4 linked regions of the Homo sapiens genome follow. The protein of the gene in region 1 interacts with the protein of each later gene in a pairwise test. Each region holds a gene or a part of one and is shown on either strand. Other genes may lie near its edges.

Region 1 (7,514 bases):
ACTTCTTTCTTCCTTTAACAACCCAACTCAAATGCCCCTTCCTATAGGAAGCTTTCCCATATTCTCTCATGTGCTCCCACAACACTCTGGACCTCCTTTGTGATGGACTGTGCTGTGTCATCGCTTGCACACATACCTGTCCTTTCTGTTGATTTGATGCTTCCCAATGATAGGTGCCTCTCCCTATCTGACTTTGGTTGTGGCTGCAGCACCTGGTGCAGCCATGGCCATGATGAATGGTTGTTGAATGAGTGAATGAGCCTTACTTCTAACATGACCACCTGTGCAGACGTAGGCTGCAGAAAGGCCATTCCTGGCTGCTTTTGCCATCTCGGTCTGTGTGGCAAGCCTGGAGGATGCTCCATGGCTTGTTGTGCATTATTTAGGGTCAACCCACTGAGGCAAAGTGAAGGAGAACAGAAGCACATATTTTGCTTTAAAATGCTCATTTTTTTTCAAGTGGGCACTTTAGGATAACTGAAATCTGGTGTTGAATGGCCTTCATGTAACATTTGCTGAAAACATCTGATGGAATATTTTAAACTTGAAATATCTTTTTCTCGCTTCAATTTCTTTCCTTGATTTCAGCTCCAGTATAGTAAAAAAGCACAAGCATTGGATTAAGATAGCCTAGATTTAATCTCAGTTTTCAGGGTACCTGGAACTAGTGCACTTGATTGTCTTGTGCCTCAGTTTCCTCATTCATAAAGTGTGGATGTGAATACCCATCTCACAGGGATGTCGAGTTTTGGAGCGAATTAATAGCTGTGCCATAAAAGTAGTTCATTAACTGTAAAATATTAATACTCTAAGTAAATTTGTTCTTTTCCTTAATTTTCGTCCTAGAAAATGAGCAAAATCCTTGTCTAATTTCACAGCATCACATGGGCTTCAAATGCTGGCTCCTTCACTTACTAGCTCTGTGTGACCTTCAGTAAATCATTTTGCTCCCCCAGCCATCTGCCTTATCTGCATAGCATTGTAATGATAGCCACCTTTCAAGATAGATAGGCAAATGCACAGAAAGAAAAATGCCATGCCAGGCACTCAATACGTAATATCTGTAATTTGCAAATGATAGATGTAATTGCCAATAATAGAGGGTTCCAGAATTTTTTGAAATGCCCCAAATGAGTCTCCTCCCTGTATTTCACCTACAGTTCTACAAGAGAAGAAGAACTAAGAAGATGGTCATGGTCCCAACCACCAAGAACCTCCTTTGGTTACACATGGGAGACACCAGGAGGGAGCAGAATGACCTAAAGATTTAGATTCAGATTCAAGTCTGATCTTACCTGAGAGAGCTGGCAGAGATTCACGGACATCGCTAATATCTGCTGAGCTATCCAGACACTGGGTGCTCAGAAACGTCAAATGTTTCTGCTCAAACATGAATAATTTCTAGGTGGCTGCACACCCATCTCAGGAGTGACTCGTGAGGGAGATTTTAGCATCACAAAGGAAAGTGGCACTGTGAGCCTGGGATCTGTGGCCCTCCCTCCACCTCCGGTGTGGATGGAGTGGTGCTGTGATGTGCCTGGTACAGGGCATTTGCATAAGTAGCCTGCCCTGCGTCACTCATCATGCCAGACTCTGAGAATCAACTGTAGACAACACAAGGTCCTTGCCTTTCAAGAGCTTAATATGTAGTTGGGGGATCAGGCATGGAAATCGGCAAGAACAAACCAGGCAATGCCGGGGGTCTGCGGGAACAAAGAGGAGCCTCCGACATATTTCCTAGGTGGTGGCTGTCAAGGATGCCTTCTTAAAGGAGAGAGAGTCTAAGCTGAGTCTGAAGGAATCTCCACATGCAGACCTGAGGGAAGGGCAATCAGAAAGGGAGAGCAACATGCAGAGACTTGGAGACAAGAAGTAGCAAGGAAGAGAAAGGAACCGCAGGGCTGGAACAAGAGGCCAAGGGGTGAGGTGGTGTCCGTTGAGGCTTGGGAGATGGTAGGGTTACACGTTTGAGAGTTTTGCAAGCCAGTCTTTTCCTCTAACAGAAGGCCATAGGAAGTCACAGAAAGGTCTAGACCTGGGCAGGATGCTCTCCCCAGCTGTGATAGAGGCCAGGTTAGCGAGATCCAACAAAGATTTTATGGCCTCTTAGGAGGCTCTGCAGAGATGCTTGACTTCAGGTAATGAGAGGTGGGAAAAAGAGAAGGACAGAGAAGAAATAGTGTGAGAAGGAATAGTAGAGAGGAACAGAAGGAAGGTATCAGAGAAATGAACAGATTGCTTCCTATCTCACAAAAATATCAGTGAGACATTCTAGGGACCTTTGACCATTGATAGGTCAAGAGGAAGGAGGGGTCATGGTTGATACTCAGGCTTTCTTTCCATCCTCCCACCGTGAGAGAAGAAGGCAAGGACTAATAAACCAGGCTCTGAATTGATGTCCCTGCCTCTATTCTGCTTCCCAGTGTCTACTGTGCACAAGGCAGCCAGAGAGATCTTTATAAAACTAAAATCAGATTAAACTCTTTGCTCAAAGCCCTTTTGTGGTTTTCTAACTCAGAGTAAAATCTGAAGCATTTCCCATGACCTGCAACCTACACGACATTCAGCCCCTGTTCCAACCCGGCTCACCACCTTGTGACCTGGTCTCCTCCACAGCCACTCACCTCTACCCACCCTGGCCTCCTGGCTGATCTTCAGCAGCACATGCTACTCCCTCCTCCTGGGACATTCTTCTCCCTGGTAATCACTGGGTGTCCCTACTTTATTCTGGCTGCAACTCAAATGTCACCTTAGCATATCATTAGCCCACCCTTACCACCTACTTCTACAATGACAGTCTCTTATTTTGATGTTTCTTTCTTTATAGTACTTATCAATATATTACGTAGTTCACTGTTGAACTCCCACTGGTAGAACAAATCCTCTCATATAATATGCACTCAGTAAATGTTTGCTGAATGAATGAATGAATGAATGAATGAGTGAACGTAGGATTGCCTCCGTGCCAGAGTAGATGCTGGTCCCAGCATTGACTGGGAATTAGAAAATGAGGAAACGATTGAGGGAGAAACAATGACATGTTCCAAATTGTGGGTTAGAATTAAGTGACTATTTCCTACATAGCTGCAATATTCCAGGCATTACTAGGCAATTGGATAGCAAGACTACCAAGATCAAATTTCTTATGAAACATTTCTTGGGACACGGAAAACTATAGATTTATTGTTAGAGGGGTCTCCAGCTAGACACTGGAGGGTGTGGGCCTGGTTGAGTTCTGCTGTTCACTTTCTTTGTCACTTTAGACATATTCTTTCCACCCCATTCTTTAAAGTCTTGCCCTATGTTTTAATTGATGATATAGCTTTTGTTGTTGGGCTTTGTGATATAGGAAATATTTTTCTTTTCTTGTCTTTCTTTCTTTCTTTCTTTTTTTTTTTTTTTTTGAGAGAGAGTTTCGCTCTTGTTGCCTAGGCTGGGAGTGCAATGGCACGATCTCGGCTCACTGCAACCTCCACTTCCTGGGTTGAAGCGATTCTCCTGCCTCAGCCTCCCAAGTATCCGGGATTACAGGCATGTGCCACCATGCCCAGCTAATTTTGATTTTTAGTAGAGACAGAGTTTCACCACGTTGGTCAGGCTGGTCTCGAACTCTTGACCTCAAGTGATCCACCCGCCTCGGCCCCCCAAATTTCTGGGATTACAGGCATGATCCACCGCGCCTGGCCTATTTTTCTTTCTCTTCTAGAGTTTTTTCTTTAATTTCATTATATTTAGCAGACGTTGAAGTGACGTCATATTCTCTAAGTCATATTCTCAGTTACTTAGAATAACTGCAACTTACAGTCTTTAGTTTTCAGTTATTATGGGGAAGATGGGCAAGGAGAGTGAAGAGAAGAGGTGAGTGTCATCCCAGGTAGCTGGAGGGAGGTAGTGGTGGGATGAACTCTTTGCATATGGATAATCTAGAGGCAGAGTGGTGTAGGCTTCCTTTGTGGGAGTGTCTTCCTGGTGCAGCTGTTTCGACAGGAAGTTCCTGTGGTGGAAGTTCTCTTGCTAGGATGGCAGATAAGGCCCTTATCCACCCGTCTGTCTGTCTGAGCATGGCTCACTCTGTTCTCCCAACCAGGCATGCCCTCTTCCATGTCTCCAGGGCTAGGCTCACTTTCCTGATGGGCCCTGCAGGTCCCTGTGTTCCTCTCCAACACTCAGTGCAACCCTGTGGCTTGACCTTCGCAGTCTGTAGCTTTCTTGTCTAGATCTTGAGTCCCTCCTAGACTCTGTACTTATGAGATTAAGAACTAGGTTTTATCTTTTATGTGGAGTCTGGTATCTGAAAGAAAATTGGATCAAAACTTGAATACAGGTACTCTAGGGTTAACTCTGATATGAATTAGCTGTGTTCTTTAAGCAGGAACTTAACCTCCCTGGACTTCTTTTCCCAATTGTGAAATGAAGGCAGTCAACAAAAATTTTATTTCCAAAGTGCCTATTATGCCCCATCCTCTGTTATAGAAGCTTGAAGGGGGCCAAGATAAAGAAGATAATGTTTATATGCTTAAGAAGTTTATAACTTCTAAAAAAGACAAACAAGTAGAGAAGCAGTTATAATATACAGTGGCAAAGCTATGATAGAGATAAGACCTGAGAGCAGAGAAGGACACCTAACCCCACTTGGGAATGCCACGAGGGGCTTCCTGGAGGAAGAGGTATCGAATATGAGACATGAATGGAAAGTAGGAGTTACATAGATAAACGTGGGATAAGGAGTCGGGGGAGCTGTTTCACATGGAAGAAAGCCAGGGTGGAGAGCAGGGGTTGAGAGAGTATTGCAGGCAGTAGGATGTGTGGGCTCAGAGAGAGTGTGGGTGAAGAACTTGAGACAGGGGTGGGAAGCTAAAAGGCTGGAGAGGTGAGTAGAGGCTGGGTGTGCAGGCCCTTGGACACTTTGTGAATGGATTTATTCTTTATCTGGAAGCTAATGGGAGGGGTGGAAAGATCTTAAACTGGGAGATGACAGATACAAACATGCATTTTGGAATGGTCCATTCTGGTTGCAATATAAAGAATGCATTGGAGAAAAGTAAATTATACAGGAGGCATGGAGACTGGGTGGGAGTCTATTTCAGGAAATTTAGGGTACCTAGACATAAAGATGGCCCAAACCTAGGTTAAGGTAATAGAGACGGAGACAGGAGGACCAACTTGAGAAATATTCAGTCAGTAGAATCTTGACATACAGGGTCCAAGAGTGAAGAATACCTCTGCTCCAGGATGATGCTCCATTTTCTGACCTAGTCTGATGGATTGGCTTTGCTGCTGTTCACTGGCCTGGGGACACAGGGGAAAGAACAGGTTTTCAGGAGGAAATGATGAGTTCTGTTTTGAATGCGTGGAGTTTCAGGTCTCTGATGACATCCACATACATTTTAGGCAATATCAATCAAACTCAGAAAAGAGTTTGGCGGAATACACAGACTTAGGGAATCCTCAGCACGTAGATGATAACTGAGAACCTGGGAGTAGCAGTGATTGGCTAGGAGAAGTATAGAGGTAGAGGAAGCAAAGGTGTTCCTTTAGACCCACAAGGGCTACACTACTGCTCATTCAAAAAATCAAACAAACGCCGGGCGTGATGGCTCACGCCTGTAATCCCAGTACTTTGGGAGGCTGAGGCGGGCGGATCACCAGGTCAGGACCTCGAGACCATACTGGCCAACATGGTGAAACCCCATCTCTACAAAAAATACGAAAATTAGCTGGGTGTGGTGGTGCGTGCCTGTAGTCCCAGCTACTTGGGAAGCTGAGGCAGGAAAATTGCTTGAACCTGGGAGGCGAAGGTTGCAGTGAGCCGAGATTGCACCACTGCACTCCAGCCTGGCGACAGAGTGAGACTCCCTCTCACAAACAACAAACAAAAATCAAACAAAAACACTCACACACAAAAAAACAAACAAAAACGCACACTATCTGGCTTCCTCTGGCCTTAGGGATTTTTCCTTTTGTGTCTACACTGCTGGTTGGGACAGATCATCCCCTGATGTTCCTGTGGCTCACTCCCTTTCCTCACCTAAGTCCCCTCTTTGTAGTGATGTCTCTGGACAACCTAGTTAAATAACCCTGTGTAGTCTCTAGCCACCAAGCTTGCTTTTTTTTTTTTCCTCAAAAGAATTCATTATCATATCATTATCTGAAATAGTAGAGATGCATCGGTTTATTTGTTTTCTATTATCTCCTCTGCAAGATGTGACCTCCCCGGTGCAAGGACTTTGCTGTACTCATAGCTGCACAAAACCCTTAGAATAGTTCCTGACACCCATTTAGCGTGCAATAAATGTTTGTCAAAAAATAGAAGGATACATGCAGAAATCATCAATAATAAAATAATACTTTTACGTTTAAAAAGTAATAACTGCAGCCCTATTTAAGCACCATTTACAGTTCCTGGGTCAGAAGGTGGCCTTCCAGTTCAGGGGCACCTTGTAGGCTGGTTGCTTGCTGCTGGACACCTGCCCCCTAGGGATGACCTCCCCTGTCCATCTCCTCAGATGACACTGACAGGCGTCTTTTTTTTTTGTTTTTTTTGAGAGAGAGTCTCACTCTGTCTCCAAGGCTGGAGTGCAGTGGTGCGATCTCAGCTCACTGCAACCTCTGCCTCCCGGGTTCAAGCGATTCTCCTGCCTCGGCCTCCCCAGTAGCTGGGATTCCAGGTGCCCACCACCACGCCTGGCTAATTTTTTTGTATTTTTAGTAGATAAGGGATTTCCCCTTGTTGGCGAGGCTGGTCTTGAACTCCTGACCTCAAGTGATCCTCCCACCTTGGCCTCCCAAAGTGCTGGGATTATGGACATGAGCCCCTGTGCCTGGCTGACAAGTGACAAGTGTGTTTTAAACTTCAGTTGAAACAGAAAAGAAGTACCACCCCTGCCCAGCCCCTGCCCCGCCCCCACCCCCACACACACCTAGGGCTTGGATGAGAGTAGTTTGAGGAATGCAGTGGACAGCTCCCACCCACCATGCTGCTGTGAATGCACGGGTGGGTGCTGGGCCATTTACTGGGAAACAGCTCTGCTTGAGACATTAAGCATCAGATGTAAGTACAGCACCCCACTGTTCTGCTTAATCCAGAGATAAAAGCAATGTTTTCTTAGACAATTGTTCTTAACCTTAATTAAGTCCCGGATCACTTTGAGCATCTGATAAAATCTGTAGCCACTCTTCTCAGAAAAAAAAAAAGTAGTCCCATGGGGGCTGGCGGGAAGGTATGGATCTCCTAAGTCCTCCGTGACCAGCTAAGAATGCCTTTTCTGCAAGTGGGATGGGGCTGCTTTGGAGCCTGCAGATGTCCCTGCATGGACTTCACAAAGTGATTGTATTCTCTGGTGAAAACTAAAACAGCAGGTCTTCTGAGTATTAGTGAGACAGGGTCATGTAAATGAAAATCGCAACCTTTAGAGTGAGGCAGACTTTGGTTTGAATCCAAGTTCTGATTAGAGTAATCAACTTGTACCATTTTGAGAGGGACTGTTCCAGTTTGAAAACTGGCACATGTATAC
Region 2 (7,514 bases), on another chromosome or scaffold:
GCTGCAGCAGCGGCAGGCCAGGGAAACAGGCATCTGCCCTGTCCGCAGGGAACTCTACTCACAGTGTTTTGGTGAGTGAGCCAGGTGAGGGGTGGGCACTACACACCCTACTGCTCCCTTCCCTTCACCTTCAGCACAGATCCAAGCCTGAGCACCTTGGAGCTGGAGCCCATCTCATGCTGGAATCCCCTCTTCTCCCCCTGCCTGACCCACCCAGCAACAGCTAACTGCCCCCTTCCCCTTCCCAGCTGAAGGGGGCCAGCCCCTCCACACCTGTGGGTATTTCTCCTCAGGCAGGAGGAGAGACTAAGAAAAGAAATAAGACACAGACAAAGTATAGAGAAAGAAAGGTGGGCCCAGGGGACCGGCACTCAGCATACGGAGGACCCGCACCGGCACTGGTCTCTGAGTTTCCTCAGTATTTATTGATTACTATTTTCACTATCTCAGCAAGAGGAATGTGGCAGGAGAGCAGGGTGATAGTGGGGAGAAGATCAGCAAGAAAACACGTGAGCAAAGGAATCTGTGTCACGAATAAGTTCAAGGGAAGGTACTATGCCTGGATGTGCACGTAGGCCGGATTTATGCTTCTCTCTACCCAGACATCTCAGTGGAGTAAAGAGTAACAGAGCAGCATTGCTGCCAACATGTCTCGCCTCCCGCCACAGGGCGTTTTTTCTCCTATCTCAGAACAAACGTACAATCAGGTTTTATACTGAGACATTCAGTTCCCAGGGGCAGGCAGAAGACAGAGGCCTTTCTCTTATCTCAACGGCAAGGGGCCTTCCTCTTTTACTAATCCTCCTCAGCACAGACCCTTCACGGGTGTCAGGCTGAGGGACGGTCAGGTCTTTCCCATCCCACCAGGCCATATTTCAGGCTATCACGTGGGGAGAAACCTTGGACAATACCTGGCTTTCCAGGGCAGAGATCCCTGCGGCTTTCTGCAGTGCATTGTGCCCCTGGTTTATCGAGAATGGAGAATGGCGATGACTTTTACCAAGCATGCTGCCTGTAAACATTTTGTTAACAAGGCACATCCTGCACAGCCGTAGATCCCTTAAACCTTGATTCCATACATCACATGTTTCTGTGAGCTCAAGGTTGGGGCAAAGTTACAGATTAACGGCATCTTAGGGCAAAGCAATTGTTCAGGGTACAGGTCAAAATGGAGTTTCTTGTGTCTTTCTTTTCAACGTAGACACAGTAACAGTCTGATCTCTCCTTCTTTTCCCTACACCAGCCCCGCCTCTTCTACAAGTCCTCCAGCTGCCAACCACTATATTCTTGGCAACTTGAGTTCCTCACCCCTTAGCAGATGTTTGGAGTAAAACGATAACTTCCATCTGTTTTTTCAAAGATTTTCTATAATAAGCATGTGCTAATTTTTTAGTCAGAAAGATTAATGTTCAGTATTTACATCCATCCATCCATCCATCAATATTTGGCCCTTGGTCCAGAAAAATATTGTGATTTGTTGTTAACCCACAGACACGAGAGATTTAAGATGCACCTCCTTGAGTGCTGGTGTCAAATGGCTGTCTCCCAGCCCAGTCTCATTGGCTCTTATGGACGCCGATCTGCAAACCACCTCCAAACCCTCAGGCAGCTGCAGGGTCTAGCAGGCTTCCCTATCCGTGTGTTATTATGGTTTGCCCTCCAGGTCAGCATTTATGGGGAGATAGATGGGCAAGCTCTAGACCCTGCCATTTCCCTCAAACCAGTGCAGCCAAGGGGGCACACAGGATGTCCCAGCTGCTTTAAAACAGCTGCCATCTTTAAACAGAAAAAGTCAGGTTTTTTCGAGTAGTAACCAGTTTTTACCTAAGGCAGGAAGGGAGGGGACCCAGTGCTGTAAACAAACCAGAGCCTCTTGTCTCCTTTGCTCTGGCCAACCCAGTCTTGCTGACTGTGCTACTCACAAGTGCCAAGTTCAGAGGAGTGACTGCATGGCAAGGCTCTTTGGGCCACTGAAGGCACCCTCCCTGAGGCCCTTCTCTGAGGCCTTGCACTTTGTCTCCAAGCGAGAACACCCTAATGTCCTTCCCAAGAGGAAGGGTGTTTGCAGTAGACATACTGCAAGCCCCCTCCCCACGCCCTGTCTGATCTCATGGTGTGTGTGCATTGGAAGATGAGTTGATCCGGGAGGTCACCATCAACTGTGCGGAGAGGGGGCTGCTGCTGCTGCGAGTCCGGGACGAGATCCGCATGACCATCGCTGCCTACCAGACCCTGTACGAGAGCAGCGTGGCGTTTGGCATGAGGAAGGCACTGCAGGCTGAGCAGGGGAAGTCAGACATGGAGAGGAAAGTGAGTGGGGTTTACCGTGACCCTTGGTCCCATCTCTTCTGTAAACCTCAGGGCCACATGCTTATCATTCCAGCACTACATTCTGACCTCCTAAGGTGCTCTGCTGACAGTCACGACACCTGGACTTGCATCACCTCAGTGAGGGACCCCTGGTTGAGTATGATGGCCAGCCTGGTGGTCTTGGCAGAGTTGTTTCCGCTGTAGACGCTCCATGCCAGGCACTGACCTCCCACTGGGTGGCAGTATATACCCTGGCAATGTCATGTCCCATGTCCCTTCCACCCAGGCTCACACCATTCCATTCACCTGGCGACATCCCAGGATGACTGGGCATTCTCTCCTCAGATCGCAGAATTGGAGACGGAAAAGAGAGACCTGGAGAGGCAAGTGAACGAGCAGAAGGCAAAATGTGAAGCCACTGAGAAGCGGGAGAGCGAGAGGCGGCAGGTGGAGGAGAAGAAGCACAATGAGGAGATTCAGTTCCTGAAGCGAACAAATCAGCAGCTGAAGGTAATCAACGCGCAGGGTGGGGTGGAGGTGCCCCCTGCCCTGCGACCCAGCCCCACAGGCCAGGCATTCGGTTCCTTTTCCATGGCTTTTAAATGTTTGTCCACATGCACTGCCAAAGGATAAAGGAAGCTGACTTTGGTGGTGGGAGAAGGGGAGGGCTCCAGAGGGGGTCTCTACTCTCAACTCCAAATCTCTGAGGCGCCTCAGCCTGGCTCTCCAGTGGAGGATTCTTCTCCCTGGAAAAAAGTTGCCCATCCTCAAGGAAGAGGTGGATATGGCAAAAAGTGGAACTCCATTCCCCTGGAAGCTGGTATGTTGGAGCCTTTCTGGAGGGGGCTGGGCTCCAGGTGGCTTGCGTGGTAGTGCCATCCCATGGCTGTCTCCTCTGAGGCCCTGTTTCAGGGCATAACCAGGGAAGAAGTCAAAGGGCAGCAGGGCCCTTTGAGAGGAAGAACCATTTCAAATCAGAAACCTTCCCCAGAAATGTGGTCGGGGAACCCAGGCACAGGTGCTCTTCCTCGAAGTCCGATGCCAGCAGTGGTCTTTTATCCAGCTGAGGTGATAGGAGGGAGGGGGCTGGTGGACAAAGCTGGGCAGGAGGCCATGCTACAGGCACTGCAACTCCCAGCTGTTTGGTCCAAAGGTCTCAAAAGGTAGGCCCTAGATCAACATCGTCCTCACCTGGCAAAGCAAGACAAATTATTGGGCCCACCCCAGATCTACCAAATCAGAAAATTCGGGGTTGGGGTCCAGCAATGTGCTTTAACAAGGTCTCAGGTGATTCTAATGTTTGCAGAAGTTTGAGCATCACTGTTCTGGAAAGATGGCCTACTGACATTTAGTGGCCTTCTCCCATGGCCCTGGCCAAAGGACCCTGGATGGATCTCCCTCTCCTCCCTAGGCTCAGATAGAAACCTTACAATCTTGACATTGCAGGCTTGTTTGGTCTACACACCAGCAGGACTGGCCATTTGCGATAAAGAAGGCTTTCTGTTAACCACTACTGGAACTTTTCTTGTTGCACAAAGAAAAGCAAGAAACTTTCACAGCCAGAGATGAATCTGTTTCCTTAGCAGCCTCTGAGGCTGCTTTCCTTAACTGCCATATTCCTTTTTCATAAGCCTGAGTTCCTCAGTTCTTCCTGGATTAGCAACAAGAGCAAACCAAATACCTTAGCATGTTTCTAACATTTAAAAGCAATCTTGTAATCTCCAGGGTGAAAGATTCTTTAGAAGTTGGCATTTTTAAATTTTTTTTCTTTTGAGACGGAGTTTTGCTCTTGTTGCCCAGGCTGGAGTGCAATGGCACCATCTCAACTCATTGCAACCTCTACCTCCCGGGTTGAAGTGATTCTCTTGCCTCAGCCTCCTGAGTAGCTGGGATTACAGGCATGTGCCAGCACGCCCGGCAAATTTCTGTATTTTGAATAGAGATGGGGTTTCACCATGTTGGCCAGGCTGGTCATGAACTCCTGACCTCACATGATCTGCCCACCTTGGCCTCCCAAAGTGCTGGAATTACAGGCTTGTAATACAGGAAGTGAGCTATTTTTATTGGCTCAAAACTGCATTGCAAATAAAGCAGCTTTGCTGTCCCCAGGATAGACCTACCTAAAGATCTGTCCAGTATTATTTTATTGGCTACCAGAGGAACATAGTAAATAACTCCCAAGTGTCTTAAGCTTTACATAAAGAGGGACAGCTCTCGGCTGGGTGTGGTAGCTCACACCTGTAATCCCAGCACTTTGGGAGGCCGAGGCAGGTGGATCACATGAGGTCAGGAGTTTGAGACCAGCCTGGCCAACGTGGTGAAACCCATTTCTACTAAAAATACAAAAAGTAGCTGGGCGTGGTGATGTGCATCTGTAATCCAAGCTACTCAGGAGGCTGAGGCAGGAGAATCACTTGAACCCGGGAGGTAGAGGTTGCAGTGAACCGATATCACACCATCACACTCCAGCCTGGGTGACAAGAGCAAAACTCCATTCCCCACCCCCACCCCCCAACAAAGAGGGACAGCTCTGTATTCACTGGCAGCATTTCTCTAATTGTGTGCCAAGTTGTCTCAGTGGCTGAAAATTCACTGTTTCCCAAACCTCTGGTCCCAGCAGAACTCCCAGGATCCTAAACCAGAGAGCCAATATTTTTTTTTTTTTGAGACGGAGTCTCCCTCTGTCACCCAGGCTGGAGTGCAGTGGCACGATCTTGGCTCACTGCAAGCCCCGCCTCCCAGGTTCATGCTATTCTCCTGCCTCAGCCTCTGGAGTAGCTGGGACTACAGACGCCTGCCACCACGCCCAACTAATTTTTGTATTTTTAGTAGAGACGGGGTTTCACCGTGTTATCCAGGATGGTCTGGATCTCCTGACCTCACGATCCGCCCGCCTCAGCCTCCCAAAGTGCTGGGATTACAGGAATGAGCCACTGCGCCCGGCCAGAGAGCCAAATGTTTAACTTAGCAGACATATTCTGGCCTGAAACCTGAGCCATGAAAAGCCCTTACAACAATGCATTCAATATCCTTTTCAATGCTTTATATCATACCCGGAGCCATTATTGTGTTGAAACCAGGACAGCTCTGGCTTCTCCTCATATACTAAAGACTGTATGCCAAGCTAGAAACTAGCTAATCTAGAAAATATGGATTTGGGGATCAAGGGGAAAAAGAACCCTTGGAGTGACAGCATGTGGATTCTTCTTCCCAGAGATTTGATCACCTCTCAGCTATTTGTATCAGGCTGCAAGTTTCAAGTATTAATGGAGCTTGTTTTTGTTTTTCAGGCCCAACTGGAAGGCATTATTGCACCAAAGAAGTGATAATTTCCACATGATTAATTTCCAACAAGACACTTGGGAGTTATTTACTGTGTTCCTCTGGCAGCCAATAAAATCATCATAAGCCCTTTGTAATAAAAAGCTAGTTTCCTGAGTGAACAAGCCATAACCTCCCCTAAACACCACCTAGGTATTTGTTAGAAGTCACACTATTACTCCAATGTCATCAGACACCTAAGGTCTGCCAGCCAGGCTCCTGGCTGGGCAATGGAAGATGGTGTGGCCCTGTTAGTCTCCGTGTGTGGCTTACTAGCCAGCCTTGGGAACTGCCAACTCAAATTCTAAGAAAGCCACTGCTTTCTCATCATCACTCTATACCAATACTTATTTCTGGCCAAATGAATCTGCTTCTCTGCCCCTCAAACTTTTAGTTCACAATTCATCTTCTACCTTAACTTGGGCTTCTTGGGCCTCTGGCCTTCCTTACTTAATGTCTTCTTTTCCCTACTCTAATGCATTTCTAACTCACTTTGGAGCTTTGGTTTTCTAATGTATTATCCCCACTTGCCAGTCAACTGGACCCCTTCCTCCTCGGTTTCAGACTGCCTACATTAGGAAACAATGGCAGTCAAACCCATGGCTTTGGAGAAAGTAAATGTTTGCCAGAAAGGAATACTAGTCACAGTGGCCTTTGTGAGTTGTCTGCAACTCAGCTCTTCCCCCAGCACAGATCTGTTCCCCTTATCCTGCAGAAAATCAAGCCCTGACTCTGCACTCCCCGAAGTAGTGATGTTAATTAACAACTGAAGAGGTAACTAAATCTCACATGCAGGTCTAATGACTAATAATTGGAGTACGGCTGCTAGACAACTGCATTTTAGTATTTCTCTTCCATTCTCCTGGTTTTGTAGACCCAGAAGATTGAATGAGTGACATAAATCTTTAGTTCGGGGCAAGCCAGGGTGGGCTAGGGTGGTAAGCTGGAGGACTTCATCCTTCAGTTAGGCTGCACAAGTAACATTACCTAAAAGGCACTAACATGCTCAGGTTCCCCAGAAAGAGGCGTAAGAAGGGCCTCTCCTTAGCAGAGCTTCCACCTGCCATCCGTCTTGGGTTCAGTGAGCTTCAAGGCTCACAATGGAAGCACTGTCATTTCCCCAGAAAAGCTGTGTTCCCTATGCTGAACACACCATACACATTCTCATCTGGAATCTAAGGAGCAGCTTTTACCCTGATCCAGTATCCTGAGGAATTTTAAGCCTCCACTCAAATGACCTGCCTGTGTTGTCATTTCCATGGGAAAGAACTCTTTCCACGAGATCTGCTAGTTCCAGGCCTCTAAGACAGGAACGTATGTGCCATAAGTGGGTCTACTTCACAGACTCAATGAGGCAGAAATTATTGTAGTTTTCTCCTATTTCTTCTGCACCCAACTTTCTCCTTGTATTTCAAAGGCCAGGCCATGTACACTAACGTCCTTGAAATTTGCAGTTCTGTATGCTTCTATTCCAAATCATTCATTACCAATAAAAACGAAATACCACCCTTTCCATTTTATAGACCTCATCCCCTATTTCTGTCAGACAGTTATATGACAGGGTGACTGTGGAACCTCTTAGTTCATCCAAAGTCTACCTGAAGTGCTAGACTTTCAGACTCTTATCACTGAAATCCTTAAGGTTGAGGAGGCTTTATTTCCCTAGCACTGGTGAAGGGCTTCAACTGTCAAACCTCAGAACAAATGCATTAGGGCCTTAGAAATGTCAATGGGGCAGGAAGAAAACACAATTTCTAACTGCCTGTTTTTGTATAATTTAATAAAAACCTTTTAAACATTACTGCTTTTGTCTGAATTTTTTGCGTTTGTGTTTCTGTCCCTCTGAGTCATTGGTCTTCTTTTTGTTCCTGTTCCTATTTTTC
Region 3 (7,000 bases), on another chromosome or scaffold:
GCAAGCCCCCAGCCCGCCCAGGCTGCATCCAGCCCGTGCTCCTTCCACATCTCCTGTACCTGGCTGTCCCATGGTCACCTCACAGCTCAGTCTACAGTGAGCTACTGAGGCCTGTGCTACCTGCCACTTGTGTGGGCCCCCCCAAGGCTGCCTCATCTCTTTGCTGCAGCTACACCTGGGTGCTGCCCCGACTCCTCTCCTCTTGCACACACAGCTGATCCATTAGGAGGTCTGTCAGCGCCCACTATCACGGCTGCCATCTTGGATGCAGCCTGCCTCCTCCCTAGGGTTTCTGCAGCACCCTGGCTTGTCTCCCTCTGCCCTGCCCCAGCATGGTCCTTTCTTTCCCATCCTTCCCCTGGAGGCCCTCCTGGTCACCATCTCACCACGGCAACTGGGGTCCTTCAGGGGCCTCATTCCCTCCTAGGGGATCATGTTGGATAGAGGGGTCAGTGGGCACGTAGCTCTCGCGGATCACGTTGGATGGAGGGATCAGTGGGCACGTAGCAGGCTCTTGGTGGAAGATGTTGGATGGAGGGGTAAGTCGGCCCATGGCAGGACGCATGTTGAATGGACGGGTTAGCAGGCATGTAGTAGGCCCATGGCAGACACTTGTTGGATGGAGGTGTCAGCAGGCACATAGTAGGTGTGTGGCAGATCATGTTGGATGGAGCGGTTTAGCAGGTGCACAGTAGGCCCTGGGTGGATCACGTTGAATGGAGGGGTTGGGGGCGCAGATCATGTTCGATGGAGCGGTTGGCAGGGTACTGCCCTACAGGGCGGCTTGTCACCCGTGCTGTGAGAAGCCCCACGCTGGCTGAAGAGGAGGGTGTCAGCATGCACTGGAGGTGCATGTTGTAAGGCTTGGCAGGTGAACTGGGTGAAAGGTGTGGGTGAGTGGCCCCAGGCATAAGGAGCTAGGCAGAGAGGGACACTTGGGGTGGGGGACAGCACACCCAGGGGCCGGGGGCCAGGAGTGGAGGCTGGCACTTGGCAAACCTGCCCCCTTCCTCCTCACCCAGCCTGGTCCTCAACCCTCAGGCCGCCCAGGGAAGGGTTTCCTCCACCTGAACCCACTCAGCTCCTTTCTTAGCTTGGCCCCACGCCACCGTCCCCAGCCCATTGCTCTGTGTGAGGGTGGCAGTGGGGCTGCAGTGTGGGGCGCCCATGCTGTTTTCTCTCATGCTTCAGCCAAGAACTACATCGCGCTGGATGACTTTGTGGAGATCACTAAGAAGTACGCCAAGGGCGTCATCCCCAGCAGCCTGTTCCTGCAGGACGACGAAGATGATGACGAGCTGGCGGGGAAGAGCCCTGAGGACCTGCCACTGCGTCTGAAGGTGAGTGACCAAGACCCCGGTCAGGCCGGAGCCTGCCTCCCAAGGACTCGCGCACCTCAGGCAGGGCACCTTCCAGGAAGCTGCAGGTGGGGAGGTTCGCGCCTAACAAAGAGTGTCTTACAGCCGTGCCGCTGGTACCTTTGGGTCATCATCTATCGTCATAAGGATGTGTCCTCGGGAGAGAGGCCTTTCTTTTCTGCGCCGTCAGGCTCAGAAACCAGGGGCGGTGTTGGGCAGGAGTGCTAGGATGGCAAGCAAGGGGCCCCTGGGTCTTTCTGTGCAGTGTAGGGGGCAGTGGGGCGGGCTGGACGCAGACTTTCATCTAGACTTCATCACTTAGCAGATTTCTCCATGTATGGTCCAGAGTGGAGGCCAGTGCCTTGAAGATGCCTTCCCCGAAAACAAAGTGCCGTGTCCGTCAGGCCAGGGAGGACGTGCAGAGGCGCCTACTGCCCCTGGATCTGCAAGGGCTCAGGGAGCGAGGCCAGTGTGGGAGCGTGGTGGGTGACACTTGTGCAGGGTGCCATTGGGCACACCTGGAGGACATGAGCAGCTTTGGCGGCAGGAGGAAAGCGGGGAGCGGGGAGCGGGAAGCCCAGCAGTGCGGGCCCTACTCCTGGCCTGACAGCTTGTTTTCTTGGCCATGTGGCCCTATGGCCTCTCACAGAGTTGCTCACAGTTCAGCTCGCATGGTTGAATTAGATGTGTGCCTGTCTCACTCTGCAGAGAACACCAGGATTTCCAGAAGCTTGGCCTCCTGACCCAGGATCCCCAAGCTGAGGCCAGCACAGGGGGCCCCAGCAGATGATTGTCACAGAGGCTGCGGGCAGTATCATGCAGGCACCCTGGGGTTCTGTCTTCTGAACTGACTGAGAACCTGGAGGAACTGCCATCATTGTATTCAGATGGGCGCGTGAGTCAGGGCCAGGACCAGGAGATGGTTGGGCCACCAACTGTCAGGCAGGCAGCAGGCTGAAAGGTCACCGTCCTCGAGCCAGGGAGAAGGTCAGAGTAGGCCCGCCCTCCGGTGGGGGGGAAGAGCAGGAACCCAGGTGCTGCAGGAGCAGCTTCAGCCCAAAGAGCAGCAGGCACAGCAGCCCTGCTGCAGGGACTCGGAGCCAGACAGGTCTGAGTGTGAGCCCCCCGAGTGCCCAGAGCTGCGAGTCCTTTAGGGTGGCAGGTGGAAGGCTCTGCTCCTCCCACTTGGGACAGGCTGTATGTCCAGGGTATGACACCGACCGGTCTGCAGAGGTTCTGAGACATGGGCCAGGATGGCCAAGAACTTGAACCAAGGGAGCACATGGTTTTTACTGATGGTCTGCTCAGAGCTGGCCCTAGGCAAGCATATTCACAGATTGGGTGCCATCATCTCCTTACTAATGGGAGATGAGGAAGCTGGGGTGCTGGCATGGTTTTGGCAAAGACACTCCCGAAATGAGAGTGAGGGTCACAGGTGAACGGGTTAACTTGGAGAAGACCCTTGGGCCAGGCGGCCATGGCCCAGGTGTCCCAGTTTATGCCATCTGGTGTAAGTACTATTATAATAATGCCTCCTTGCATATGCGTCCTGTTCGGAAAATTATGTCACCTAGTTATGGATGGTGAGTCTAGTGTTGTGTAGCATCTGAAAATCCTATTTATTTATGTTACTTAATGACAGGGTCTCGTTCTGTTGCACAGGCTGGAGTGCAGTGGCACGGTCACAGCTCACTGCAGCCTCAACGTGCCAAACTCAAGTGATCCTCCCACCTCAGCCTCCCAAATAGCTGGACTACAGGCATGTGCCACCACACCCAGCTGATTTTTTTGAAAACATTTTGTAGCGATGGGGGTCTCACTATTGTTATCTACGCTGGTCTCAAACTCCTGGGTCAAGCGAGCCTCCCACTTTGGCCTCCCACACTGCTGGGATTCAGGCGTGAGACACTGTATCCAGCCTGAAAGTCCTTTTTAGAAGGGAGAGATTTAAGCTGTTTTGACAAGAAGTAAACAAGACTCTGTTTCCCTTTAGTTTTGGATGCTGTCAGAGCACTTCGATTCCTTTGCAGTTTGTCTTCTTAGAAGTCTCTTGTGAGGGAGGCAATGAATCGTCACAAGCGTCTCCCAGGGCTGAGAGCTGTCCCACCTTTTAGTAGCCTTTTGTAGAACAAGGAGAGGTCTTCACTCAAAGTGAAAATGACAGACACCTCTTTGTGAGCCACCCTTACTCCCACAAAGAATGTTCCAGACTCCACACAGTTCTCTTCTGGAGCCTGGAGGTGCAAGCTGTCATCGTAGATAGAATCCTCTGAAAACAAACTTAATATCTTAAAATCGTAACATTTTTAACATTACATAATTGGAAGATCCGACACGGGAACATTTTTGCCCACAGGTTTGAGCAGAATCTCGTCTCGGCTCCCTTCCCCAGCCTGCCTTCTTCACGGGTCCGCTGGGCCATCGGTGTGGTGACGCTGCTTCCTGGTTTCTCGTGGCAGCAGAAGGGCCGATCACCACAGGCCCAGACAGAGAGCTCTGCAGTGTTCTATTCATAGAGGCAGACTCCTCATAGTTTTTAAGTTTCGTTCTTTTTCCATCTCAGGAGTTGAATTTGTTTGGACCTTCTTTGCAGAAAAGGAGACTGAACTTTTTAATCCCATGTCAGAGGAAGGTCTTGGGTGTACATTGCAGGGAGCAGAAATTGGGGCTTTAAAAAGGGGATCGTTCCCTGGTCATCGAGTTCAGGTGGGGGACCAGCCCCTCCACACTGTCCAAGCAGAGGCTAGACGCCATCCAACGTAATGTTCTAGAATATTCCTTGTCTTTTAAAGGCCCTCTCAACCAGGTGGTTGTGTGTGTTCTAGGCAAAAGAATGTGCATGGCTTTGAGTAAGACAGGATTTCAGATTTATTTTTACCAAGGCCACCCCCTTGCTACCGTGGCGGTCGTGCGTGAAACTGGTGGTGAGCAGTGGCGGGCCAGGCCACCTTTAGTTGTCCTGCTGTTCGCAAGGCCCCCATACGGGGATTAACTGAGCAGCCTGCCGGCTGACGCACATGTTGACTCGTGTAGCTGTTGATTTTAGCCAGCTGGCCTGGCGTCATACTACAGGGGCTTGCCCCAAACAAACCCTGGAGTAGGTTGGTTTTCATAAATGCCCTCTGGCTCTCTGGCAAGCGTTGGAAATGCCCTCAAACCCTGTAGTGCCTGGTCTTCCCTGGCCATCTCCTGGCAGTGTGAGCGCCTCTCTGCTCATGTAGAAGGTTGTTGACCCCAGAGAGAGCTAGGGGAGCTGTTAGCTGCTTTAATCGTTTATTTGCTTGTTATAAAACAGAGATTAAGTGGACTGTCACAAATATACATGAAGCAGCAGAGCTGTTCCCCCACGTGTAGACGTGCATGCACACACTCCTAAACACTTCCGTTTCTTCCATGAGCCTGTCCTTCTCATCTGTGGAAGGCTCAGTCTGTGTAGACATGCATGCACACACTCATAACACTTCCGTTTCCTCCATGAGCCTGCCCCTCTCCTCTCATCTGTGGAAGACTCAGTCTTCTGGTTGTTTCCAGGTGTCCTGGTCCTCCAGAGCTGATAGCCAGGCTGTTGGCAGGTGAGGGCCACATTCTGGTGTTGTCACCTAGTTGCCATTCACCTGGGATCCCTCCTTGGCCTTCTGGTGGGCCTGGTGGAGAGAACCTGCCCCAGGGGATTTGTGGGGTCTGGTGCTTCCCCGAGGCCCGGAGCTGATGGGGGGCTCCAGCCTGGATGTGTCATGTAGCCCCTCAGTGGGCCCTGGACATGCAGCCAGGCTTCCCTACCCCCATGTGGGGCCGCCCCCTAGGCGTCCACTTCCTGGTGTTGGTCCAGGCCCCTGGCACTTCTGAAGATGCACAGAACCTGCTTTGTATGCCACGCCATGCTGTGTGAGCACTGGCACCATGGCCACTTTGTCCCCCATCCCCTCCAGTCCCTCTGCCTGGCTGCCCTGTGTTCTGGCAGGGCTCAGGGCCTCTGAGTTCTGCACAGACCAGGAAGGCATGAGGGCTGGCCCTGGGTGGCAGCGCTGCTTCACCCCATCCTGAGGCTGCTCCCAGCATGCCTCCCTCAGCCCTCTGCTCCTCTTGGCTGTGGTGAAGGCCAAGAGCTCTTTCTGACCTTAGCGCTGCATGCAGAGCAGGGGAGCAGGACCCACAGGTCGGGGGAAGGCAGCCTTTGGCCTTGACTATGGGGAGGTAGGGGTGCGCTGGTGTGTATGTGTAGGTGCACACGTGTAGGGGTGGGTGTGCATGTGTGAGGGTGCACGTGTGGGGGTGGGTGTGCACGTGTGTGTAGGGGTGGGTTGCGTGTGTGTGAATGTGTATAGGGGTGGGTTGTGTGAATGTGTGTGTAGGGGTGGGTTGCGTGTGTGTGAATGTGTGTGTAGGGGTGGGTTTGAATGCAGGTAGGTTGCGTGTGTGTGTAGGGGTGGGTTGCGTGTGTGTGAATGTGTGTGTAGGGGTGGGTTGTTTGCGGGTAGGTTGCGTGTGTGTGAATGTGTGTGTAGGGGTGGGTTGTGTGAATGCGGGTAGGTTGCGTGTGTGTGTGTAGGGGTGGGTTGCGTGTGTGTGAATGTGTGTGTAGGGGTGGGTTGTTTGAATGCGGGTAGGTTGCGTGTGTGTGAATGTGTATAGGGGTGGGTTGTGTGAATGCGTGTGTGTAGGGGTGGGCTGCATGTGTGTGTGTAGGGGTGGGTTGTGTGTGTGTGTATGGGGTGGGTTTGTGTGAATGCGTGTGTGTAGGGGTGGGTTGCGTGTGTGTGTGTGCACGTGTGTGTACGGGCAGAAGGTGGCCTGGCAGCTGCTTCTCAGGGTCTCCGGCCATAGGGAGGGCAGCTCACCCGGCAGCCCCGTGCAGCTGAACGGTATTTTTGCTGGGAGAGTGGTGCTGGGCCCTCTGCCTGTGTCTGCACTGAACTCCCTTTCCCTAATGCTTGCTCTGCCACCCCTCCGGGGACTGCCTGCGGCTTCTCCTCCTCGTAAGGATCGCCATTTCCCTTCATGGAGGCTCAGGGAGGTGACATCCTTGCTGTAGTGCAGAGCTGGGTCACAAAACCAGCTCCCAGACAGGCATCTCAGGGCTCCGTCATCTCTTCATGTGGGTGACCCTGAGGGGAGGGAAGTGGGGAGCCCGTGGGTCCCTCCAGTGCTGGAGGTCTTGCAGGGAGAGAAGCACACATGCATCTAGTCACGCTGGTAGAAGGTGGGGAGCCAGGCACGGGGCAGAGGGGGGCTCCAGGCCCAGAAGAGGGAGGGCTCACAGGGACCGCGAGCATGGGGAGGGCCACCTGGAGAAGGGGGGAGGGAGGACCACTAGGATGGGGCTGGTGATGGGAAAACGCAAGGGTGCGGGTTCCTTTTGCCCAGAGGCAGGGTGGTCAGAGGGAGGCGTGAGATGGGAGCAGTGGGGGTCCTGTCCCAGCCTCGTTCCCACGTACCATCTTTCCCCCAGGTGGTCAAGTACCCCCTGCACGCCATCATGGAGATCAAGGAGTACCTGATTGACATGGCCTCCAGGGCAGGCATGCACTGGCTGTCCACCATCATCCCCACGCACCACATCAACGCGCTCATCTTCTTCTTCATCGTCAGCAACCTCACCATCGACTTCTTCGCCTTCTTCATCCCGCTGGTCATCTTCTACC
Region 4 (7,514 bases), on another chromosome or scaffold:
TAAAGGTGATTTATAGTTGTCAGTATTTCCAAATGGCTGTATAATATATAACCAGGATGTAGAGTTGCCAAGTAGCACATTAAAAGTGCTGACGCCCTGCCATTTTTAGTAGAGAAAAGGGTTGCAGGGAAGAAGTTCACTTTCAGTAGTTTAATTTCATTTTGGTGTATGCAATTTTTTTATTCAATAGTGCCTGCTAATCAAAGCAGTTATTTGGTGTTCTGTTTCAGAGCAGAATAAAAAATTGCATTGACTATTAGAATAAACCTAAAAACCAGGATGTTTTATTTCTGAGATAAATGCAAAGTACTAGATCATCGTATTATGAATATGAAAACTTAACAAAATTCAGTTTTAAAAAATACCCTATTCTTTGCCTGTTATCAAATGTATAATTTAATGTTTTTATATAATTTAACATTTTTATATATTGAGTTGCTTGTAATCACAAATAAATACAAATACACATTTTTTTTTTTCATTGAAATCCCAGGTTGTAGCTGCTTGTGCCATGCCAGTAATGAAGGGTTGGAATATCCTAACAAACTCAGAAAAATCCAAAAAAGCCAGGTACTTTATTGTTATTCAATGTAGTACCCTTTCATAAAGCAGAAAATTGCACATTTTGGTATTTAGACCTTCCCATAGATTAAGAATTTAATATCAAACTCGGAAGAAGTTGGTGTGCTCAGCTTCTAGGAGCAATAGAAGTGAGTACTACATAGTAGAGAAGGTGAAGTCAGGAGTTTATGGTATTGAGCTTTAGGATCAGCATTAAAAATCCTTCTTTAGTAACTTGCTCAACTTGTGAAGAAGGGTGAATCTGGACTTACTAAGCTACTACTATACTATACTGGGATTGATTGTGTTTGTTTTTATTTTGAATTAATGTGAATATTTTCTGAGGACCATTCAGCAACTTTTGATCATTCGGTATTGTTAAAAGTTACAATTTTCTTTATTTTTTGAAACGAGGTCTCACTATGTTGTCCAGGCTGGGCTTGAACTCCTGGCCTCAGGTGATCATCCTGCCTCAGCCTCCCTCCCATAGTTCTGGGATTACAGACGTGAGCCACCAAACCTGACCAAAAATCATAATTTTCTATGTTCTCTAATGATACTTTATTCTAGGCTCCTCTAAGCATTTTCCAGATTGTGTGTTTAATACTACCAGAATGATACTCGGGAGGATCACTTGAGCCCAGGAGCTCGAGTCCAGCCTGGGCAACATAGCAAGACCCCGTCTCTTAAAAAAAATATTACCACAATGATAGATAATTGGCATTTCTGATATTAAATGTAAAATTACTATTAATTGTATAACAAATATACATCTATGAAGGTTGTTTAAATGGCCTATATGTGGGCCTGGCACAGTGGCTCACGCCTGTAATTCTAGCACTTTGGGACGCCAGGGCGGGAGGATCACTTGAGGTCAGGAGTTCGAGACCAGCCTGACCAACATGATGAAACCCTGCCTCTACTAAAAATACAAAAATTAGCCAGGTGTGGTGGTGGGCATCTGTAATCCTAGATACTCGGGAGGCTGAGGCAAGAGAATCGCTTGAACCTGAGAGGTGGAGGCAGGAGGCTGCAGTGAGCCAAGATTGTGCCACTGCACTGCAGCCTGAGCAACAGAGCGAGACACCATCTCAAAAAAAAAAAATAAAGTCTATAGGTCATTTTGAGTGCCAGCAGTTAATGTCAGTGTGTGTGTATTTGAGAGTCATTTTATATGTTACAATTTTCATACAGGGAAGGTGTGATGGAGTTCTTATTAGCAAATCACCCATTGGACTGTCCTATTTGTGACCAGGGAGGTGAATGTGATCTGCAGGTATGTAGTAGAATTCTGTCAATCTTTTTGGTTGTCTCAGATTTTAATTTTATTAGCAGCATGAGATTGACTCTTTCATAATCTACTTAAGGACCAGTCCATGATGTTTGGAAATGATAGGAGCCGATTTTTAGAGGGGAAGCGTGCTGTGGAAGACAAGAACATTGGGCCATTGGTAAAGACCATCATGACAAGATGTATACAGTGTACTCGCTGCATCAGGTAACTTTTTTTCCTTTTTTTTCTATTATAGAATATAATTGTATACTTAATAGTCACAATTTGATGAATAATAACATTGGAAAGAATGGCTACTTTTTTTGGGTGGGAGAAGAGGGATGCTGTTTCTGATATATGAATAAAATAAGTTCACTTTCATTTAGTACCAACTTCAGGTGGATTTAAAAATTAAAATCTATAAGCATTTGCTTTCACTCATAACTTGGTGAGTTGTACACATATGATTTGTACAAGTTTCTGCCTGTGTGTTACACCTCAATTAAATGCAAACATTTCATTATTTTTTATTCTAGGACTGTGCTCACCTTTAAAAATATACTCATTTCTTTTTAGTGTTTGGAAAATCATCTCTTTGTGATCATGAATAAGAAAGGAAATAATTTTGCTGGACTTGACCATTGATGACACATTTTTTATCTTGTAGGTTTGCAAGTGAGATTGCAGGAGTAGATGATTTGGGAACAACAGGCAGAGGAAATGATATGCAAGTTGGCACATACATTGAAAAGATGTTCATGTCTGAACTGTCTGGGAATATCATTGATATCTGCCCTGTAGGTGCCCTAACCTCTAAGCCCTATGCCTTTACTGCCCGGCCTTGGGAAACAAGGTATCTTTTATTTTATGACAATTTGTTTTTTTGTCCTTAATTCATTACTATTCAAAAAAATATTAAGGTTCATTTTCTTCCTGGGTTTCAGTTGTTTTGGTCTGTTGACTTTGTTTGTTTATGTAAAACCCTTTAAATAGAAGGTAAGTAGTTAGAATGGATTGAACCTGTGCAAATTAACTGTAGTTTTCTTGGAAATTAATTCTAAAGTACTCAACCACAAAATTATTTTTTTCATGTGTTCTTCCAAAGAGTTTAATAGTGTTGACATTTTAAATGTATAGTCTCCCATGTTGTTGTTTATTAAGTTTTCAACTATGAGGAATGTCATTTAGCCAGTTTCTGCTAATAGACATTTAGCTTGTATATTTCTTTATGATTACAAATCTGTAAAAAATATTGCTGTTTACACATTTCTGTGTATATCTCTCATTCTCCTGATTAAACCAAGAAATGGAGTAGATAGATGCAAGAGGTGTGATTATTTTTAAGGTTCTTAAAACATAACAAATTATCATCCAATTTTAAACTTTATACTTTTCAACTTGGGATTTGGCTTTTTGTTTCTGTGTAATTTCTGTGTCCTTACTGAGAATCTCTACTTGCTGATTCGTGGTTGTCATACATCCCCTTCAATTTTTAAATATGATTTTCTTTGGTTCTTTCAACATATTTTAATATTCTTGGTTTTATTTTTAAGTGAGGCTTCTTAGGAGTTCCCCTGTGTCTGCATAGTTTAGTAGTCAGGTATAATTGTACTTCAAACACCGTGACCTAATAAGAGTTATGTTCTTTGCCAATGGATCTGTTTGTGGATGGAGGAGCATATTCAAAGTTGAGGCTGTTTTCAAGTTTGCCCAGCTATTACTTTGCACTGGGCCCTTTGGGTCTCAGAGTTATCCAGGAGTTTATGAATAGGTTGAGCTTTCTCTGGTTTCACCTGCACATGTAGCAGCCTCTGTTAGGAATGCTTGCCGCAATTACCACTACAAACTTAGGCTGGTAAAATCTTGGCTATCCTCAGCTACGATGACCTCCAAAGTATCACCTCCACAAACAAGTTTGCCTCGTGCTCCAAGTTAAGTGAGTTGTCTCCATCTGTACCAAAGAAGTTCTCATCTTCACAGCCTGCCCCGGCCTCGAAGAAATTCCATTTTGAGGGGGTGGAGAGGAGCATAGGAGGAGCACTGAGCCCAGCCACCAGTTTTTCAGTGCATAAAAGCTTCCCACATTGTATGTGTTTAGATTTCTAAACTGCTGAAATGGTGGGTTTTGTCATTTTTGGCCAGCTTTACTTTTGCTTTTCAGTGGGAAGGTTTTTTGAGCTCCTTAATCTCCCATAGACAGAAATCCTGCCCCTCTTGTTGAATCGTCCCAGATTTGGCTAGTTGGAGCCCCTTCAAACTAGCTTCTGTGTCAGATAATAGTTTTAAAGCCTTCCTTACTGTGCCAGGAATTTATGTGTTCAAATGTGGGTGTGCCGGGAGCAGTGGCTCACACCTATAATCCCAGCTTTTAGGAGGCCAAGGTGGGAGGATTGCTTGAGACCAGTAGTTCAAGACCAGCCTGGTCAGCATAATGAGACACCGGCTCTACAAAAAATTTTTAAAATGTGGTGAGAGGATAGTTTGAGCCCAGGAGTTCTAGGCTGCAGTGAATTATGATCATGCCACTGTAGCCTGGGCAACAGAGTGAGACCCCAGGGCAAAAAAAAAGGTGGGGGGTTCTTTTATTTAATTGCAGTTCCTCTAAGCTTCATTTTTTAAAGTAATTCAGAAAGGGAATTAATTGTAAAAAAAATTTTTTGGTAAACCAGGTAACAGAAACTTTCTTTATTCCCAAAAGCACCATAGTAAACACCGTATGTGTTTCTCAGAAAGACAGAATCCATTGATGTAATGGATGCGGTTGGAAGTAATATTGTGGTTAGCACAAGAACTGGAGAAGTGATGAGGATTTTGCCACGTATGCATGAGGACATCAATGAAGAGTGGATCTCTGATAAAACCAGGTATATGCTATATTGTTTTCCTTAACTTTTACAGTTTATTTAAAGGAAATTTTATAATAATTTTGAAGAATTATCTTTTATATTTGCAAATTAGTTACTGAATATAGACTACTGGAATCTGAGTTGCTTATATAATGTGATAATACTGACTTTAATAGTCCTAGGTCAATCCCTGGATATTGTATTTACTTTGAGAAAGATATTTTTTCCTCCCACATGGAGAAATTCAAGTAGATTGATACATTCTCAACTTATTTCAGTTTGTTCATTAGAGAAAAGAAGCTAGGCTGGGCGCAGTGACTCACACCTGTAATCCCAGCACTTTGGAAGGCCGAGGTGGGATGATTGCTTGAAAAAGAAGCTGAATAGAAGAGTTTGCACAATATAATTTTGATAAAATATTTAGAGATACTCATGCTTTGTAAATAAAAATGATTTGACTTTTTTAGCTGTCAGATTTTTTTGTGTTGTAATTTTAAGATTGTTCAGTTAGCTGAAAGTATAAGAAATCAAACTTTTTTTTGTATGATTTAAGGGAAGAAATCAAACTTTCAGATGGTATTTTAGTTTTAGGTGAAGTTCATAAAATCTATTAGTTCATCTCTAAAAATATCTGGAATAATTACTTGTATCTAGGTGTTTAGATATTTGACACTTTAACCAGTACTGTATTTAAATAACATTTCTTGTTGATTTAACTTGAAAATTATAGTTACTTCTTTAGCAAGATTCCACAATGGTGTAATTTCTGTTTTCTAGATTTGCCTATGATGGGCTAAAACGTCAAAGACTTACCGAGCCAATGGTCAGAAATGAAAAAGGGCTTTTAACCTATACTTCTTGGGAGGATGCGCTCTCTCGCGTAGCTGGAATGGTAAAATTTGAAATAAATAGTGTTAAATAGTGTTTGTGATTATCAAGAAACATCTTTGCCATGAAGGGGGGGATGTATATTTCTTCCCTTTTTTACTTTTACCAAGATTATGATTTAATCTCCTTCCATTTTACAGACATCTACTGAGGACATATGCTAGATATTATGCTATTAAGGGATATAAAGACCAGAGACACATCATTCCTGCATCCTACAATCTTGTAGTAGAGAAAGTTGCACAATTCAGCAATTATTATATGCAGCTATGAGTAATTATATAAGGAGTAATATGAGTGAGAGCACGTAGGAGGAATGCCTAACTAGGACAGGCATATCAAGATGCCTTCCTTGGAGGTTGCAGTGAGCCGAGATCGCACCACTGCACTCCAGTCTGGGTGACACAGCGAGACTCCATCTCAAAAAAAAAAAAAGCTGCCTTCCTACAGAAGGTGATTCTTAAAGAAGAATCTGAGAATGAATATAAGCTTGCCAGAGTACAAGTGGAGGGAATAGTTTTCTTGTTAGAGAAAGACAACATAAAGCACTAGAGGGAAAGGCAGATACTTCAGAGGAGGTCGCATTTAAGGTAACTATAGTTCCACTTCATTCTCCAGACCTCATTTTGAAGTGCCTTTGTTCCTAAATATAAAACAGCTTCCTTCTAAGTTGATGTTATTAGCTGTGGCCCCACATAACACCTCTGCAGCTTTTCACTTTTAGATTAATTAATAATTGTTGTACAACTTTTTTTGTGTTTTTGAGATGGAGTTTTGCTGTTGTCGCCCAGGCTGGAGTGCGGTGGCGCGATCTCGATCTCGGGTCACTGCAGCCTCTGCCTCCTTGGTTCAAGCAGTTCTCCTGCCTCATCCTCCCGAGCAGCTGGGGATACAGGCGTATGCCACCATGCCCAGCTGATTTTTGTATTATTAGTAGAGATGGGATTTCACCATGTTGGCTAGGCTGGTCTTAAAGTCCTGACTGCAGGTGATCCGCCCACTTCTGCCTCCCAAAGTACTGGGATTACAGGCATGAGCCAGTGTGCCTGGGCATGTTGTAAAACTTTTAATCAGAAGTCTGTTAACTTTTTTTGTACTTGAAAACAAGTACTGTTTTATTTTCTGAACATTTCATTGTGGTCTTTGCTGCGTGTAGGTTTCTTGGTGATGCCCTTTTCATCTGTTTCTAGTTGCAGAGTTTTCAAGGCAAAGATGTGGCAGCAATTGCAGGTGGCTTGGTGGATGCTGAAGCCCTGGTAGCTCTCAAAGATTTGCTTAATAGAGTGGACTCTGACACCTTATGCACTGAAGAGGTCTTCCCCACTGCAGGAGCTGGGTGAGAAATATGAAGCTAGGATCTAGGCTTTCCTTTCTTTTTTTAGTTACAAGTTATGTATAAAATGTGACAACCTGGATTCTCCAACATATCCCCCAGTTTATTTTCATATATAGACCAAGATCAAACCAGAAGTTGTAGGAAATAGAGGAATCCACTTATCACTAAGTATCTCAGGCACAGTGGCTCACGCCTGTAATCCCAGCACTCTGGGAGGCCAAGGCAGGCAGATCGCCTAAGTGCAGGAGTTTGAGACCAGCCTGGCCAACATGGCGAAACCCCGTCTCTACTAAAAATACAAAAAAATTAGCCAGACGTGGTGGTGTGCGCCTGTAATTCCAGCTACTTGGGAGGCTGAGGCAGGAGAATTGCTTGAACCTGGGAGGTGGAGGTTGCAGTGAGCCAGGATCACGCCACTGCATTCCAGCGTGGGAGACAGAGTGAGACTCTATCTGAGAAAAAAAATAAGTATCTGAAATGTTCATTTAATTTAGAAATACTTCATAAAATTTTTTGTTTGAGAAGGCAATGGGTTTGATGATAGGAGAATATTTCATGGATTCTCTGTATGTCTTAATTTTAAAGTAAATTTGCATTTTATATATTGTAT

The links.
Region 2: the proteins of FAM135B (region 1) and DNALI1 interact in binary tests that used the Homo sapiens proteins (3 or more experiments, as listed by UniProt).
Region 3: the proteins of FAM135B (region 1) and WFS1 interact in binary tests that used the Homo sapiens proteins (3 or more experiments, as listed by UniProt).
Region 4: the proteins of FAM135B (region 1) and NDUFS1 interact in binary tests that used the Homo sapiens proteins (3 or more experiments, as listed by UniProt).

Annotation. Positions count from the first base shown.
Region 1 is NC_000008.11:138,487,033-138,494,546, reverse strand, and holds part of FAM135B (protein FAM135B), read left to right. Parts: intron 1-7,514.
Region 2 is NC_000001.11:37,559,426-37,566,939, forward strand, and holds the end of DNALI1 (axonemal dynein light intermediate polypeptide 1), read left to right. Parts: coding exon 1-71; intron 72-2,131; coding exon 2,132-2,310; intron 2,311-2,655; coding exon 2,656-2,820; intron 2,821-5,600; coding exon 5,601-5,636; 3' UTR 5,637-7,429; downstream 7,430-7,514. Other genes in the region: GNL2 (nucleolar GTP-binding protein 2), read right to left, coding at 7,430-7,514. UniProt on the Homo sapiens protein: Involved in sperm flagellum assembly.
Region 3 is NC_000004.12:6,293,850-6,300,849, forward strand, and holds part of WFS1 (wolframin), read left to right. Parts: intron 1-1,191; coding exon 1,192-1,340; intron 1,341-6,807; coding exon 6,808-7,000. UniProt on the Homo sapiens protein: Participates in the regulation of cellular Ca(2+) homeostasis, at least partly, by modulating the filling state of the endoplasmic reticulum Ca(2+) store.
Region 4 is NC_000002.12:206,142,076-206,149,589, reverse strand, and holds part of NDUFS1 (NADH-ubiquinone oxidoreductase 75 kDa subunit, mitochondrial isoform 1 precursor), read left to right. Parts: intron 1-493; coding exon 494-570; intron 571-1,755; coding exon 1,756-1,837; intron 1,838-1,928; coding exon 1,929-2,059; intron 2,060-2,501; coding exon 2,502-2,687; intron 2,688-4,563; coding exon 4,564-4,698; intron 4,699-5,457; coding exon 5,458-5,572; intron 5,573-6,758; coding exon 6,759-6,904; intron 6,905-7,514.